Regions from separate parts of the Homo sapiens genome. Here region 2 is linked to region 1. The links come from fine-mapping of genetic effects on plasma protein levels. Region 1 holds a variant in brackets. A gene starts in the other region. All regions are shown on their reverse strands.

What was found. A credible set is the group of variants that fine-mapping cannot tell apart. PIP is the chance, under the fine-mapping model, that this variant and not a neighbour inherited with it causes the effect. Protein levels are from antibody-based Olink assays in UK Biobank. Linkage for the fine-mapping came from a reference panel and not from the study's own genotypes, which makes the PIPs less certain.
Region 2: GFRAL starts here. The variant in region 1 is the best candidate, but not a certain one, in a credible set for the plasma level of the GFRAL protein (UK Biobank, PIP 0.90).

Annotation. Positions count from the first base shown.
Region 1 is chr8:71,478,469-71,486,815 of GRCh38, reverse strand. It overlaps a transcript of EYA1 not described here. Among named protein-coding and RNA genes, the nearest start is that of EYA1, 120 kb to the right of the region's middle. The variant G/A (reference allele first, on the strand shown) is at 4,060.
Region 2 is chr6:55,323,060-55,331,406 of GRCh38, reverse strand. GFRAL (GDNF family receptor alpha like) reads right to left here and starts at 3,938. Exons shown (of 9, transcript NM_207410.2): 1 at 3,831-3,938. The coding sequence starts at 3,852.

The sequences.
Region 1 (8,347 bases):
TTTCTTTCAGCATGACCCTGAGACAACTCCCTGGTGGGAGAGTTTGGGTCTGCAGGGCAGACGTGCTTTCTTAGAACCTCACCCTTGCATCCACTGGGAGCAGAAAGAGAAAGCAAGCTGAACTCCTGATCTGCCCCTGCTGTCAGGTCTTGGCTCTGGGCCTTGACCTGCTGCTTACACAGAGGAGGGTGGGAACCGAATAGGATCCAGGTCTTTTTTCTCTGGATTCGGAGGATCCCCAGGGAGAAACTCACATAGCCAGCTTCTCCCTACCCACCTGGCAGGTATAGATATGCCACTGCTTCTCCCAAGAGGAGGCACGACTGGGCAGGAGAAAAAGGACCCCCAGGTTCTTTTCTAATGCTGTTCTCCTTGGAGAGAGAAGCAGAAGCTTCCTAATCTGAAGACTGTTGTAGGAGCATGAGGGGAAACGAATGCTTTCTCCTAACACCTCAGTTTCTTCTCTTTCCAGTAGAGTCGATTATACCTCTTCTGTGTGCCTCCCAGGATTGTTGAGGTGATCAGAGGCGCCAACCCAAGGGAAAATTCCTTGCAGCAATCACTGTTGCACCATAAGGAGGAAAAACACAGTGGTTGCATAGTGCTTTGCCACCAGGAGAGTTGTAGTGGGAATATCCCCAAGTCAGGCAGGTTGTCTCAATACTAGTCTGATAGTGCTATGCCTAGTACCAAGTCTTCACCACAGCAGGAATTCAATACTTGCAGGGATGATTCTGCCGCACCCTTCAAACCATGCAACCCGATACTCACTATGAAGATTCCGCCAGAACTGTTGGTGCTAATTAAACTCTATTTCTGAGATCCTAATGGTTGGTAGGGGCAGTGACTTCACAGGTCCCTTTGCATTTGGCAAAAGCTATCAACTCTTCTCTCATTAAAGGACACATCAAACATAACTTTTTTTTATTGTTTCAAGACACTCATAAAAACTCATAAAAAATGCCATCCATGGAGCCTTTAGAATGACTTGGACCTCAGTGAAAAATCCCTGACTTGGATGTCAAATCTTTTGGAAACATTTCAGCCCTTATTTTACTTATTAACTCATCTGCAGAGTTAGTCACTTACATTGGATTAAGAGAATAACCTTGCAGGTTTTCATTTAATACCCAATACTTAAAAAAAATACAATATAAAGAAAAACAAAGCCATATTCCATCCAGAGGTAAGTAAGAATTTGGGATGGTAGCTCCCCAAACTAGTAAACTCTTTTTTTTTTAAATGGTTTACTCTTCCGTTGACTTGTACTTTTATTCTTGTAAAATCTGTTCTCTTCTTGCCTAACCGTTCTTTTTACATGATTTAGAGGAATGAGAAAATGAAGAGGATATGGGACTGGAGATTTATTAGTTTATGATTCTTCTCCATTGCCTCCTTGTCAGTTTTTATGTCCCCCTAACTTTGAGAAGGAACACATTATTTGTATTTATGTAGATTTATTTTTTTCAGTGAAAAGACATATGTCTCAAAATATGAAAGAAAAATTGGTTTTAGTTATATATATGAAAAATTACAAGTTGTCCTCAATATGAAATGTTTGATTGTTTAAAAAAATACATGAATCTTTGGTCAAAGGAAAACATCTGATCATGACACTTTATCTAATGTTACTTAGTTTGAATTTGAAAAGCATTTTCCTATCTACTTTTATTCACAACAATAAATCACAAACTTTAACATATACCAATAAGCAGTTTGAAAATGAAATACGCATCCATTAGTCAGTCAGATCCTCCTAGAGTTTTTGTCCTTGGACTCTAGTCCTGCTTATGAATAACCATGAGGCTGTTTAGGGTGGTTGGCAATGCAGTTGAAGGCTGCTAGAGGCACAGAGCTTTGCTTATGGCTTACATGAGGCTTGTGAAGAATTTCACAGGCGTGGCTCCCAACAGCAGCTGTTCCCTACCCTCCAGGTCCCCCGGGACAGGCCAGTCTGGAGCCAAGGCCCATGCTCTCAGCTGCCAGATGGAAGGAGGGTGGTAAGACAGCATGATGGGGAGCGGCAGCATGGTCACAGGTAGTGGGAAGTGGAATAGCTCCCTGGGACAGGAAGTACAAGGTGCAGTAACTGACCTTTTCATTAGGAGAGGATTTCCCAGCACACCTCAACCCGTTGTACATGGCCAGCAATCTAATTTGCAGGACCCAGTGCAAAATGAAAATGTGAGGGCTCAGCCAGGGGTAGGGAAGTCAGTGTATCCTTCTTGTGTGTGCATCACCCCAAACAGCAACATAGGAATGACCCTCAAGAGGTTTCAACCTGAATACCTAGGTAGGGGAATTCCTCACTATAGCATTAGACTGAGGGCAAAGTTATTACCAATGGCATAACCAAGCCATTACAGCCAGCCCATTGACCAACACTTTGAGGTGGGTTACAAGAGAAATACCTAACCTTTGCCTGCCACTTTAGAATTTGTGTATACTTTCCCTTTCATTGACTAATTTACCCTCAGGCTTCTGTAATGGTACACATTTCAGTAAACCTGGTCTTTTTACTTTTGTGAACCCAATGTTCTGCTTCTCTTGTTTATGCTTTTACACAGACTATGCTTATTCTAAAATAAGGTCTTTCCACACTTTCATCTCTTAAAACCCCCCTGACACAAGCATCAGTTTTTTCCCTTTCCCCTGCAGGGATGGGCACAGGTGACTGTGGGTAATCCAGTTGTACAAAGGAGGGCTATCCTGCTATATTACCTTCCTGGACCAGTGAGGTCAACCAGCCCCTGGCTCCTGTGGCCTGAGTGTAATTCAGTAGCTGCTTGTGCAGGTCTGTGAAAGCCCCTGAGAAGTCCCAGAAATACAAGAACACCGCAGCTGAGATGCTCTTCTCTTTTTTTGCTAAACTTTCTCCCATGACAGAAGAAAACAATTTACCCTCTCATTTTACTTCTGATTGACCCTTTGTTTCCCACCTCCAATTTCATACCTTACTCTTATTTAGTCAAACTCATTTCCTCAGCCGGAAGGAAAAGTTTCCATACTATTTGGGGTCAAAATGAAGGAAAAGCTCTTGCTAACTTTCCTTATGGGCTCATTTTTACACATTGCATCACTGCTTTCAATTCTTGCCTTCTATTCTGTATGTTTGCATACCCAACACACACACACACACACGCACACACACACATACCATTGACGCTATTAGGCAGATTGTCATATTCTTCCCACATCCTGATGTTTTTTTCCAGCTTCCCCAGAGGCCACATAAAAAATGTGGTGTTTTTTTTTTGTATATTCTAAATATTTACTGAAGACTAAAGGAGAAAGAATGTGAGCTAGTTTTGCATGTTAAAAAATTGTTAAACTTTTTTAAAGTGTGTTTTTCTCTCTTTTGATAATACACTGAAGCTCAGTTTATTTCTTCAGTGTGGCAAACCTGATTGTGATTGGTTTCAATCAAACACACACACAGGTACACATGCACATACTAAAGTGAGGGCTTTGCAGTGTTAAACAGGATGAGCTCAGATAGAGCTTGGTGAGAAGATGACATTTAAACACAGTCTTGAGGAGCTGAGAGAGGGAGGTTGGTGGCTATCTCGAGGAAGAACATTCCAGGCAGAGGCAACAGCCAGGGCAGAGGCCCTGGGACAGCAATATTCAAGGAATGTTTTAGCAGCAGCAAGGAGCAAAATAAATTAGAAGGGTTGGAGTGGCCAAATCTGGTTATTGTGGGCCATTAAAAGAGTTTGACTTGTACCCCAAGTGAAATGGGAGCCACTCATGGGCTTGAGCAGGGGTCTGTCATGATCTGGATTATTGACTTCAGAGAATCAGGTGACCAATTCAGAGGTGCAGTCATGGTAGGAGCATACATTTTTGTTTATGTAGACACCCCTGTAACCACCACCAGGAAGAAGAAGGAATACAGCATTTACACTACCTCCATTGTACCCCCTCTCTTTCAGCTGATACCCACAAAGGTAACCTCTACTCTGACCAATAGATTTGTTTTGTGTTTTACTTTTGATTTCATGTAAATAGGAATCCTATAGTATATGTTCTTTTGTGTCTGGCATCTATTGTTTGCTC[G/A]ACTTTGGGCCTGTGAGTTTTGTCTATGTTATCGTGTATGTCAGTAGTTCATTCTTTTCATTGCTGTGTAGTATTCCATTATATGAATATGCCACAATTTCTTTACTGTTGCTGAACATTTGATGATTTCATTTTTTGACTTTTATGAATTATGTTACCATGAACATACTTGTAAATGTCATTTGGTGAACACATGCATTCATTTCTCTTGGGTATATACCTAGAAGTGGAATTGCTGGGTTTTAGGATAAACATAGGTCTAACTTCAGAAAAGAGTCCAAACAGCTTTTCAATGTGGTTGAACCAGTTTGAACTCCTACCAGCAATGTGTGAGCACTCAAGTTACTCTACGTCCTCAACAACACTTGATACTAGTTCTTTAACTTTAACTATCCTAGTAGATGAACAGTGGTATGTTGTTGTGGTTTAATTTGCATTTTCCCGGTGAATAATGACATTGAACACCTTTTCGTATGCTTTTTAGCCATTTGAATAGCCTTTTGTGGAAGTTCCTGTTCAGATCATATGCTCATTTTTTATATTGGATTGTCTTTTTGTTTTTGATTTGTAGGTGTTCTTTTTATATCCTGCATATAAGTCCTATGTTAGATATATGTCTTGTGAATACCTTCTCCTCATCTGTAACTTGCTTTTTCACTTTCTTAATGGCGTTTTTTGACAAATAGAAATTCTAAATTTTAATGAAGGCTAACTTTTTAATATTTTCCTTAATCAATAGTGCTTTTTATGTGTCCTGATAAAGAGACTGTGGTCTTCCTCTTTCTTCTTAAACAGAAAAGTTACAGAATGGAAGCTACTTTGTTTGATTCAACTTGCTTTCTGATGGGCATCAGAATAAATCAACCACTAAAATATTTTGTTTCTCCTCTTGCCCCTCCTCTCCTCCTCCTCCTCCTCCTGCTCCTCCTTCCTTTTTCTCCATCAGAAGTTAAATTCCTGCTGTGATTGCCCTGGCTTCAATTTCCCATATAGCAACTGCTGCTGTTGCTGCTGCTGCTGGCCATTTGCAGGATTATACAGCTCTACGGGAAAAGTAGGGGATAGAATATAACAGAGAACTCTTGTTGATTAACTTGCTTTACAGCTGCATATTAAGCTCATCATGTAAAGGAAATTGGCCCAGTTAAGTATCAATACCACAAAGCAAAAGCAATCTCGTTTGTTTTCATACCCATATTCAGCATCTTGCATAGTCCCGGCGTGCAGTAGGCACTCAGAAAAAAACATTTTTCTTTTTCAGAATTAAGTGGATTCGTCTTGAAAAAATATCAAAAAATAAGTTCTTGCAGTCAATGTAACAGCTTAGGATTGATCATTATTCTCAGTTCAGTGTGGAAGATGGTATAATTAATACTTTTCTGATCATTCAATGACTCTCATCTTAAAATTGACGGCAGCCTTGGCTAGCATGTGCTTGCTATTTTTATAAATAAAAAATGCTACTCATGCAAATACAAATAAATATTTTGTAAGGTGCTTTCTCATATACTTAGAGTTTAAACTAAAAATATTTAATGTCCAACTTTATTATGTTACTACTTTGTAAATTCTAGTAAACTTTTTTTAACTTTTCTAAAGCAATGGAGTAAAATCTGTGTGTTTTCTTTATTTGTGCATAATTTTCTATATTCGTTAACTTAAAATATATGCTTAATGCCTTGAAATATTCTAATATGTATACAACTTGCTACCTAAAATTTATTTTAAATTAGTTTTAATAATAGAATTAGAGCTACTGGAATTTTTCTAAGTTGAGTTTTGACATTTGCTTTTGAAAATTCATTTACCAGAAAAAAAAATTCTAATTTTATTGACCACGGAAAAAAGCCATTTTCACCTCAAAGGAATTTTTAAGACCTTTTAAAGTTAATATACACATAAAGCAAAATTGTTTAACTTGCAAGGCATAGATATAAATAATTGATATTTGTTTTAGAATATTCTAAACAGGTTATTTTGCTTAAATATCTATTTAAAATGGAAACGTAAACTATCTCTTCTACTGTTTTTTTTTCATGCAGATATAATGTTTCGATTCTTTGGTGCTAAATCCATTAACATGTATTATTTTGAATCCATAGTGCTGAGAAATTAGGCTCAGGTTTTGAAAAGAGGAAAGGAATTCATGGGATTTTTTTCTATTCAGCTGAAGGTGCCAGCATTTTTTTTTTCACTTTAGAAGGTAAATAAATTGTTCCGGGGTGGATCTTAATCTCTCAGTTTTGCAGACCAATCAGTGGAATTTTGTTGAAATGCTTTAAGACAATGCGTGTGTACAAGTGATTTAACCAGTGATGAGGATAGAAAACAGCATCTGCTTTCAGCCAAGTGATTACTTTTGTACTGTTGTATAAAGGCAAACAAAGGTGCTTCCCTGGGCCCCATTTTGTACCCCGGTAATCTCATGTCATATACACATCACATCATCCCCATTTACAATTTTCACACATTTCGAAATGAACATTTTAATAATGAAGTCTTTTCTGTTGATTAGAGCTGTAATGATTAAATGGTCTTGAGTTTTCTTAGCCTGTGAATGTACAAGATTAGACAAGAATTACAAATAAAATCAAGGAAACTGTAACAATACGTTATGGATAAACTTTAGGAGTAAAGCACCAGGGATTTTTTTCTTTCTTCTTCTTTATTTTTTTTGAGGAGTGAAAGAAATTAGAACAAGATGAGGAAATAAAAAATTTAAGTGACCACATGTATCACTTGAGATACCAGGGATTATGAAGATCAGAGAAGATTTAGGAACTAGAGTAAATAGGTCTCTCTTCCAGCTCATTGTTTCCAATCTCCTTTGGACTGCTTGTGGAAAAGGCAGACCATTACATAATAAACATTTTATATATAAATAATTTTTGTCCACCCACATAGCTCACTGACAGGTATTAATGGGACGAGCAGGGATGGGAAGCACAGTTGAGTGGTGTTCAGGTATCTTAGGAAACCCTATCCACTGTTGAGTGATAGGGTGTCTTCACCTTCACATCTCAGGGGCCAGTGTAGCTGCTTGGGCCATAGAATTATAGCTGTGATATCAGGTGCTCTAAAATGGTATCCCCAAATATCCAGTCCAGAGAGGCTTTTTTTTTTTTTTTTTTTTCATAAAGAAAGTGTTCTAAAGGTATTTTTACTGTTTCTGCTCATTCAACAGTGTTTATGCAGCAGGTACTGTAGTAGGTGCTGGAGAGACAGTAGTGTGCAATACAGACAAACAATAAATTCCTCCCCCATGGCCTTACAGCCTGGGGGGTGGGCAATAAAAGAAAGTATAAGTAAGGAAATTACATAGCATGTTAAAATGGAATGTGGAAAGAGAAAGAAAATTAGAGCAGAGTAAGAAGACTAGGAAATGCTAGAGGCAAGTGGGTTGTGATTTGAATAAGGTGTTCAGGGTAGGCAGGCCTCGTGGGGAAGGTGCAATTTGAGCAAAATCTTGAAGGAAGTAGAGAAAGTGAGCCATGAGCAAATCCAGGGAAAATTTCTCAATGTCATGGAACAGCTGGTGCAAAGGCCCAAATGAGGGAGCATGCTGAGTGCATTGGTAGACTAATCAAGAGGCCAGTGACTGTAGTGAAGGAAGCAAGGGTTAGGAAAGTTGGAGGTGAGGTCAGAGAGGTAAAGGGTGTGGTGTGGGAAAGTAGGTCCCTATCACATAGCACCTCACAGGACCTGGTTAAGGCTTTTGTTTGCAGAAAAGTGGTGCATCATTGCAGGGTTGTAAGCAGAGGAGCATGTCATTTTGCCTTCTTGATACCCACAAAGAATGTTACACAAGAATAAGTATTCTCTTGTATCTCTGCAGTACCTGATGCATGGTAGATGCTCAGTAAATATTTGTTGAATGGATGGATAAAAATGGCAACACACTCATGTACAGGTTTTTGATCAATCTGATGATAAAGTGCTTTATTGTGGGACTCTCGTGTTTCTTCTGTGTAGGACTCTGACTCATGAAGAGGTGGACTTTCAATGGAAGGCCTCCCATGCCTCCTGTGACCCCATTGTGAGCATGCTAAGGGCCCAGCAGCTATTTCCTCTAGATCAGTGAACAATAACTTGAGAAGGATCTTTACGTGGCTGAGGTCCACAGCATGTAGGCAGTGTATCTCTTGCTAGCACCATTTCTGGCTGAGTGGCTGTTCACAGGTAGAGGTCTTTGAAGAAAGACTTTAATCCTTATGAAGCTCATTTCGTTTACTCCCATGATTTTTGGGGTAGCCATAAGTTCTCCAAGGATAACATTTCTTAAAGTGAC
Region 2 (8,347 bases), not on the chromosome of region 1:
AAATCTAACTTAATGGTTTTAAACTTTATCTCACCATTGACCATTTTGTTGACTTTTTTGTTTTTGAAACTCTTCCTTTGCCAGCCCTCCCTTCTGTTCTCTTGATATTTATCCACTTTGTATTTTCTGACCATAGCTAAAATTATTCCCAGGATCATTTTATTCTTCTAGTAAAGTATAATTTTAGCTTAGGTTCTCTTCTCAGACCTTTTCTATTTTCATTTTATACATTCTCTGCAGAAAATTCCATGTACTCTTATGGTTTGAACTAAAATGTTAGTCTGATGATTCTCAAATGTATAATTTAATCTCAGTATTTCCAGCGTTCCTGTCATAGGTACGTAATTGTTATCTCTACTTGAATGTTTCAGAAACACTTTCACAGGATCTTCATCATCATTGTTCCACTGTGGACCACTACTTCATTCACAATGCCACAATTAACATGAGAACTCAAACTAGAAATCTTGGTTTTGTGGTAGACTATTTTCCATCCTCAACTTCACTCTCCCATATTCATTCTTGCTAAATTTATTGACTTTCACTTTGAGCATTTGTTTAACTTATTAGTCAGTCTGCCTCCAGTTTGAATCTTATTCAGAACCTTATTCAGATAGGTTCTTTGTAACCCCTAATCTACCTGATGTACTATTCTAGTCTTGCCATTTTTCTGTTTTATATCCTTTAAACTATTTCTCATATCAGGGCTCTCATATTCCTCACCATGTGCAATCTGGAAGGTCTCAAGCATTTATCGTTTCCCGAATGATCCATGCTGTCTTCTACCTCTGCATACCTACTGTCTGATCCCTGATAAGTATTTTCTTTCTTTTTCTTCTGGAATAACCCTTTTTGTTGTTTAAAACTGAACACAATCATTAGCTATTTTCTGGAAACTTTACTTGAATTCTATACTCCCCTTTTTCCACACTCAAATTGAATTTGACATCTTCCATCCATTTACTAGAACTGTGGGGATCCCGCAATTACAGATTTTACTGTTCTGTAGTGTATATATTCATGTGCCTGTCTCCACCACTGGATTGTACAGCTTTACCCACAGACATTAAGGATAATTTATAACTGTATTTTTGTCACCAAACACAGTGATGCAGTATAGGTATTCAATAAATGAATATTGGCTTATACCCAAGTTATTAGATGTTTATATATAAGATATATAAATAACTGATAACATCTAAAAAATAATACCTTCCAGATATTTACAAGTTACTTTTGCTAGAGGAGAAATCCAGCAAGTTTTCTAAAAACAATCAAGAAAATAGCAATGTTAATTTAATATGTTACGCAAGTTAGTCAAATTGATTCTGCAAACATATGAAGTGACACTAGCCAAATCAATTAATAGAAAAAAATACAGGGATTGAAATTGTGTTACAGAGACAGTTGTAGTAACTGTCATCAAGAGAGTCAAGCTATAACTAAATAAGAGCCAAATTATTTGAATTTTTAAATGCTGTTGTTAATTATGAATCACCTGTGACAATGTAGAGTGATAGGCTTCAAGTAAGGGCTTGAAATCTCTCTTTTTTTTTTAAATCTTACCTCTTTGCAAATCTCATCTTATAAGAAGAATCCAAGACAACTGATTGGACCATGTGTACTACTTGCTGGGTCACTGCATTTGGAGATTAGGCCCATGGGTGTAGCTTGGTAACATTTTTCTTGCTGAGGGCTGGAGTGGAAATGGACATATCAGCTTTCTGTTTTCTCATGTGTTCATGGACAACCTCATCTAGCCAAGCCCTTGTACTCCTTATTTGGCTAGCCCAAAGAAAGAAAAAGAGGACTCTTTTGATCCTAGCACAAATTTACTTGGTCAAATCCAGTTTTCCAAAGACCCAGAAATAGAAATTTGAAGTCATAAACTCAACTTATAAGAAAATGGTATTTTATTTGCCATTAATCATTATATCTTGTGAAAAGCCCCTTCAAGAATCTTATAAGTGATAATATCCCAGATATATCATCAAAACTTCATCAGTACTTCAGAGTAATAATCACTTAGAAATACTACATGTTGTCTTCCCCAAATATGTTTTACTTCCTTTCACATTTTCAGTTTTTAATGTTTTACTTCCTTTCACATTTTCAGTTTTTGGTTGAACAAGCTTCTTAATAGATTATTTTATAGGATTTTCCACACTTCCTACTCAACAAAATATTGACTCAACTAAGAAAACCACCTCAATGATTTGGTCCACAAGAATCAAGAATGTATTACCTCTCCAAAATCTGTCTTATTCATTCCAAACTATGACTTGTGGTTTTGTATTTAACCTAGGATTTTTCAAGAATTTTCCTGTAATACTCAATGAAAAATAACTTCTATTTTTAAATTAATAAGATGGATAATGCTGCAAATTATATCAGTGTTTTAAAGATGTATGGGGCTTATTATCCTACTAAATGTTCTGAGATTTTAAAATTCATTGTTTTCCACATTTCTTTACCAACAGACATTTTCCTCATTATAAGACCTATTTAGATAATGTCAAACAAGCATTCTAAAAAATATAATATGGGAAATGTTGGTACAACATATCAAATAGTATAATTTTAGTTCTAACAATGTTAAGAAGTTATTTCCCTCCTTCATGCAACCTGGTGTCAAGTTAATTTAGAAGTAAAAGATGAAAATAAGAGGCCATTGCCTTTTCAACTGAGGTCATAATGAGTCTGTAATGTATTTTGTGAGCTTCATTATATTGCTGCCTGATCTATAAAAATTAAAGTTTCCTATATTTCTCTTTATCACAAAAAAGAACTAAAGAAATATTAACAATCTTTATAAAAATAAGAAAATATTTTAGGAATAATTACAAAAAGCAAAATTATGGAACAATGGAAAAATATTACTTAAACAAAAGAAAAACTGAAAATATAAGGGATTTCTCTCCTTCTTAACTTGTTTCCTTGACTTGATATGACTCTCCTTTTATGTTCGATACAATTTAAAGTAAACTTCTTTGCTTTCTGGCCCATAATTATGCCTTTATTCAAGTATATATTAGCTTAAACATAAAATGCCATATTTTTAAAATTACAATCTAGCTACAGTTACAATTATTCCTTTTCTGAATTCAGTTTATAGATTCTACCAAATGCTAAAGAAGATATAAAATATTCTCCAGTCACACATCTAGCAAATAGATTCATGGATTCTACATTAAATAAAAATAAATTATTTTTCATCAACATCTTATAATACATTCATCGGATCCAATACAAGAGAAGTAAGTCCACACTTGAGTTCTAGGTCATAAAAATTAATGAAAATATGAAGCATTCTGATATGGTGTTAAGTGGTTTTACTTCACTAAATTACTTCTAGTTAGCAAATATTAACACTGTAGGTAAATTGAATGTTTTAAATTAATCTTATTTTTGTTTAATTTCAAAGCAAAATAAATAAAATAGATAACAGTTTGAAATTTTTCATCTTATAACTTGTAAATAGATACTGGAAGGTTTTATTTTTATTTCTAAAAGGTTCTAACACATGTGTGAATTCCATTAATCCTAATAAGTAACTCAAAGTCATTGGGTCATTCTATACAATAAAACAGAAACAAGCTGAGAGATTAATACAATTTTCACATGCTGCATTATCTATAGAGTTAGAAATAAGTGAGTAAAAGTGAGTGTACATTTTTGCAAGAAGAATAAACCATGTTAAAGCATAAATTTGTAATTTACTTGGTACTTCATATTATAAGCCCCTGTTAAGCTTAAGTGTGATGGTATTCAGTTTACAAAGAATTAGTATTATGAATAATTCAGATAAACCAGAAGCACCATTCACTTACCCAAGAAAATAAACACTATCATGCTGGACAACTCACGGCAGTTCACCTGGAAAAAAAGGCAGATGCGTTTCTTCTGACAACTTTCTTAAGAGTAACTGTCCAGAATAAGGCTTCAGCCTCTGTGTTTGCTTCCTAAAGGCATTACCAATTCAAGTCAGCTTCCTATATCATCATTTCCTCCCCAGTGTTTCCTAAGTTGTGAACTGTTCTAATTATATTCAAATTCGATTATTCTCCTGAGGGTGCTGGTCTTGAATATTAGGATATTATGCCTCTAAGAAAGCCCATGAGCCAAATACTAAGAGAAATGATACATAATCTGCACGTTCATGAAAAAGGTTTATTTTCCTTAACTAAAATACAACACTACGTAAAAGCCTCCCAAATATGACCCAAAATTTTCAAAGACACTTGAGCATACTCAGTCTCCACTTGTTTAATTAGCCTCATTAAGGCAATTTCATGTCATTTGAGGATATAGAAAAGCTAAAAACGCATAATAGCCCTGGAAAATGTATGCAAAATCGAAGTTCTACTAGAATTAGCCTGATATAACTCAAACATACTGGGAAGCTGCTTCCCAAACAAAGAATGTTGTATTACATGTGCCACAAACCCCAGTATGCTTAAAAATTATGCCACTTCAGCTACAGTATCTGATACCTTCCAAGTACAGCTACAGTGTAAAAAACATACTCTTCTCAGTGATGCAGAAATTCTATGTTCCACTGGAAAGATAATCATCTACATTTGTGTGCATCACTTGACAACTATTTTTTTTCCTAGTTTCAATGAAGGGACTTATTTATCTTATGCCTTGGTTTGGCTACGCCCTTCCTCATGTAAACCTACAGCACATCATCTTTCTTGGGGTGTCATGAGACTTCTATTTCTAAATCACCTGGAGGCCTTTCTAGAATGAATGCTTAAAAAATAAAATGCTGCTTTGGCAAGAAATTAAGAAGAGATAGGGATGGGAGAGAAGTATTTGTGCAGTTACACCATTGAGTTTTTGATTGCATATTGTTCATGTTTATTTTATACCAGTAGAGAAGTTATACTATATTTTGTTTTCAGCAGGCATAATGAAAAAACACAGACTCTAGAGTCCAACAAACAAAAATTATAACACTGCTTTTCTCTATAGATCTAGATGAGTGACTTAGCATTGGAAGTTATTCACTCCTTTGTAAAATGTGTCAATTGTATTAATTCTTGCTGTAATATAAGGTATGTATATGAGGGGCTTATATCACAAAAAAATTGATTATATTACATTCACTGACTTAATTATTACATAATAGAAGGATTATAATATCATAAAATTAATCAATCTTTTCTTCTTTTCAAGGGATTGAGTCACTAAACTTTCCTAATGACTTCTACCAAGACAAGCTTAGATATAAGCCAACTTAAAAGGACTTAAACTAGGACAGAGTTGGTTACTACCATAGTTGAAGAGTCCGTGGGAAGAATTAATTTCAGGTGTGTTTTAAACTGTTTTCTCTGGGTCTAAGTTGTTTGTTTCCTCCTGTCTCTTACCTGCATTCTTCTCTACCAGTTCTATTCCCAGAAAGGCTATTTCCTTCTGGTGGGAAGATGGCTGTGAAGCCCTTGGCAAACATCCTTCTCTCTTAGAAAGCAGGGTAGAAAGTGTCATTCTTTTACTATTAAAGTTGCAGAATTAAGTCACATCAGTTCTAGATGTGTCAAGTGCCAATCAATTTTACAAAAGGAACTTACCCCATGTCCAGTATCATAGATACAGGTTGTCAGTGTAGTTGGCCCTTTTCAAAGCACAGAATCTGATGGTGCAGAAGGTGTGCATCACGAAGGAAAATTATGGTATTAGAAGAAGCAGCTGAAGGGATCTTGGGGCAGCAAAAACCACATGCTTAGTAATGTATCTAAGTGCTGAGTTTAAGAAGAGCAACCACAAGGAAAATAAACTTATGAAACAAAGGAAGAGAATAACATAATTTTCTGTTCAAGGAAGGCGATATAGTTATGACTTTCTAGAGTGCAGTGATCCACAGAACCTGAATATAAGACCCTGTGAATGGTGCTAATCTTTGCCAGACAAGTACAGCTGCTTCGGTCTATAACTTATAGGTATAGAAAGCACCTGTGGTCATATAGCTGTTTATCCAACACAAAATAATATCAGCTGTGTTACCACTGAATGCCTGTTCATTGAGCCATCAGTCCTCTTTGTGTATAGACTCCTTCTCAGGATAATATTTTCATGGCAAAAAAAAATTTTAAAGATCATAAAGGAAATTAAGTATGTTAAAATATACTTGTCAAAATATGTTTTAAATTTGTGATAAAGTAATACATATGCTTCCTCATTGCAGAAGGAAATATCAAGATCTAAGTGAGTCTAAAAATATTGTTGTTTCAGTGTAGTGATTATCACAGATCCTAATTTGAAAGAACTTCCACTAATAAAATGTTATATAAAAATATCTGTAACTTCTATTAGTGACAAAGATAGCACAGGAAGTACTGAATTTCAATGAGTTTAGTAAAAAGATAACACAATTTTACCCCAAGCAAATTATAGAACCTCAAATTCATAAACCCAAATTTAATGTCTACGAAAATAATACTCTCGATTATTTAAATGAAAGCTGCTATTGAATCAGAACATTGTAGAAATAGAATTATCAATTTTGATAGTTTCTAATTATAATGTGTGCCTAATTTTAAAATGTATTCTACATTTCAAGTAAAATGTTGTAATATATAAATGAAACAGAAGAAAGTACAGCTGCTCCGGTGGGAATTTTCATGAGTAGTCCTCAGCTCTACTTATTGGGCTTTGCCAGCACATTCACAGCTGCTACTGAAGCATCCCAAAGGCTCTGAAATTCCCATTCAAAATTCCCTAAATTTATGTAATTGCTTTTTGATAAATTTTGTTTTAGCTAACGTATCATTCTCATGACAGTTAAATGCACTAGACCTCACACCTTGGCAAAAGACATGTAATATTTACTAAAAGACTTTTGTATCAAAGACTCTACAAAAACAAAAATGAGGGACAGACACTAGTTGCATGAATTGGATAAACTAGAATGCAAATTAAGCTACATATAAAAGCGAAAAAAGAAAAATTGTTAAATAAAACTCTATGATAAATCAGTGAAAAAAACTTCATATTCAAGGGCACTTCTTTTTGGAACATAAAGTTGTTTAAAGCTTTTGTTCAGTGACATTCGACTTCCTCCAATCACCTTTGCATTACCACTATATTTGTCTACTTAAAACTTTTGTAGCATGCTACTGTCTGGAGGAGTCTGTTCAGCTCTAGCCAACCTAAAATTGACATTCTGAAAAGAATACATACATATGGTCATGAGTTTCTTGGCTAAAAGACCTGTAAACAGAGTTCTAAGATGCCAAGTAATAAAAGCAGACATGAAGCAGTAATTTTTGGAGAAATTAAACAACAACAACAAAAAAACTCTTGCTTTTTTTATTGGAAGACCTCACCAAAAAAAATAATAATAATTAGGTATACTTAATCACCTCACCATAACTTGCCCATCAAGCTCCTCACTCACAACCTGATGAGATGTGGCCAGGCATGGAGGGACAAGGCCGCCAAAACTGGGAGAAGCTGAGAAACCACAAGGAGCCAAGACTCTGAGGTTTGTTCTGCGGAGTTCAGATGGACTAACGTTACTGAGACTCAGTGGATGAAGAGGAAAAGATAAGTGCTAATTATGGGTGGCCTTTTATGCTTTACCAAGAAGACTAGAGTTTAACAGAAGAAAGAGAGGCTTTTGGTGAGTTCCAGAACAGAGTAACCTGGTTGGGTTTTGAAAAATTGCTTATGCAATGCTATGGAAGATGGTTTGGAAACAAGGTAAATTGCCTGTCACAAAGCTATGTCAGTAGTTTAGGGGAGAATGACAAGGGCTGAACTAAAAGTAGTAATGATGCAGAGAAAATGGTAGGTCCAAGAAATTTCAGAATTTAAAATTTACAGGATCTGGCAACCATTTGAGATGGTGGGCGGGTTGAGAAGGAGGAATGAATTCTTACTTTTGTTTTGCGTTACTTGGTGTTGGTTGTCACCATTTATCAAGGCACAAGACTCACAGTTCAATACTCTTTATACAAAATCATTCAATCCATTGATGAAGTTAAAAATTTTAATTAAACAGCCATTCCTTTGGCTCATGTCATCATTTGGGAAGATACGCTGCCTGTCTTCAAGAGAACTAAAACAGCTCCAAAAAATAAGATTGCCTTAGAGGATTATTATTAAGTTCTGGCCCTCAGTCTAGTAGGAAATAAAGAATGGACTCATTTATTATTTATGCTTTAAACAATGATATTGATGGAAGTGTTAATGATATTGCCAATTTATTTACTTATAAAAAAAGCTAAATGCTAGCCAGTATCTTAATGTAGGTATGCTAACATAAAATTGGTGGGTGAAAATATTTAAAGAGGATTAGTTCCATAATTCATTCTATATAACCTGAATATTTAATGGCATCAGG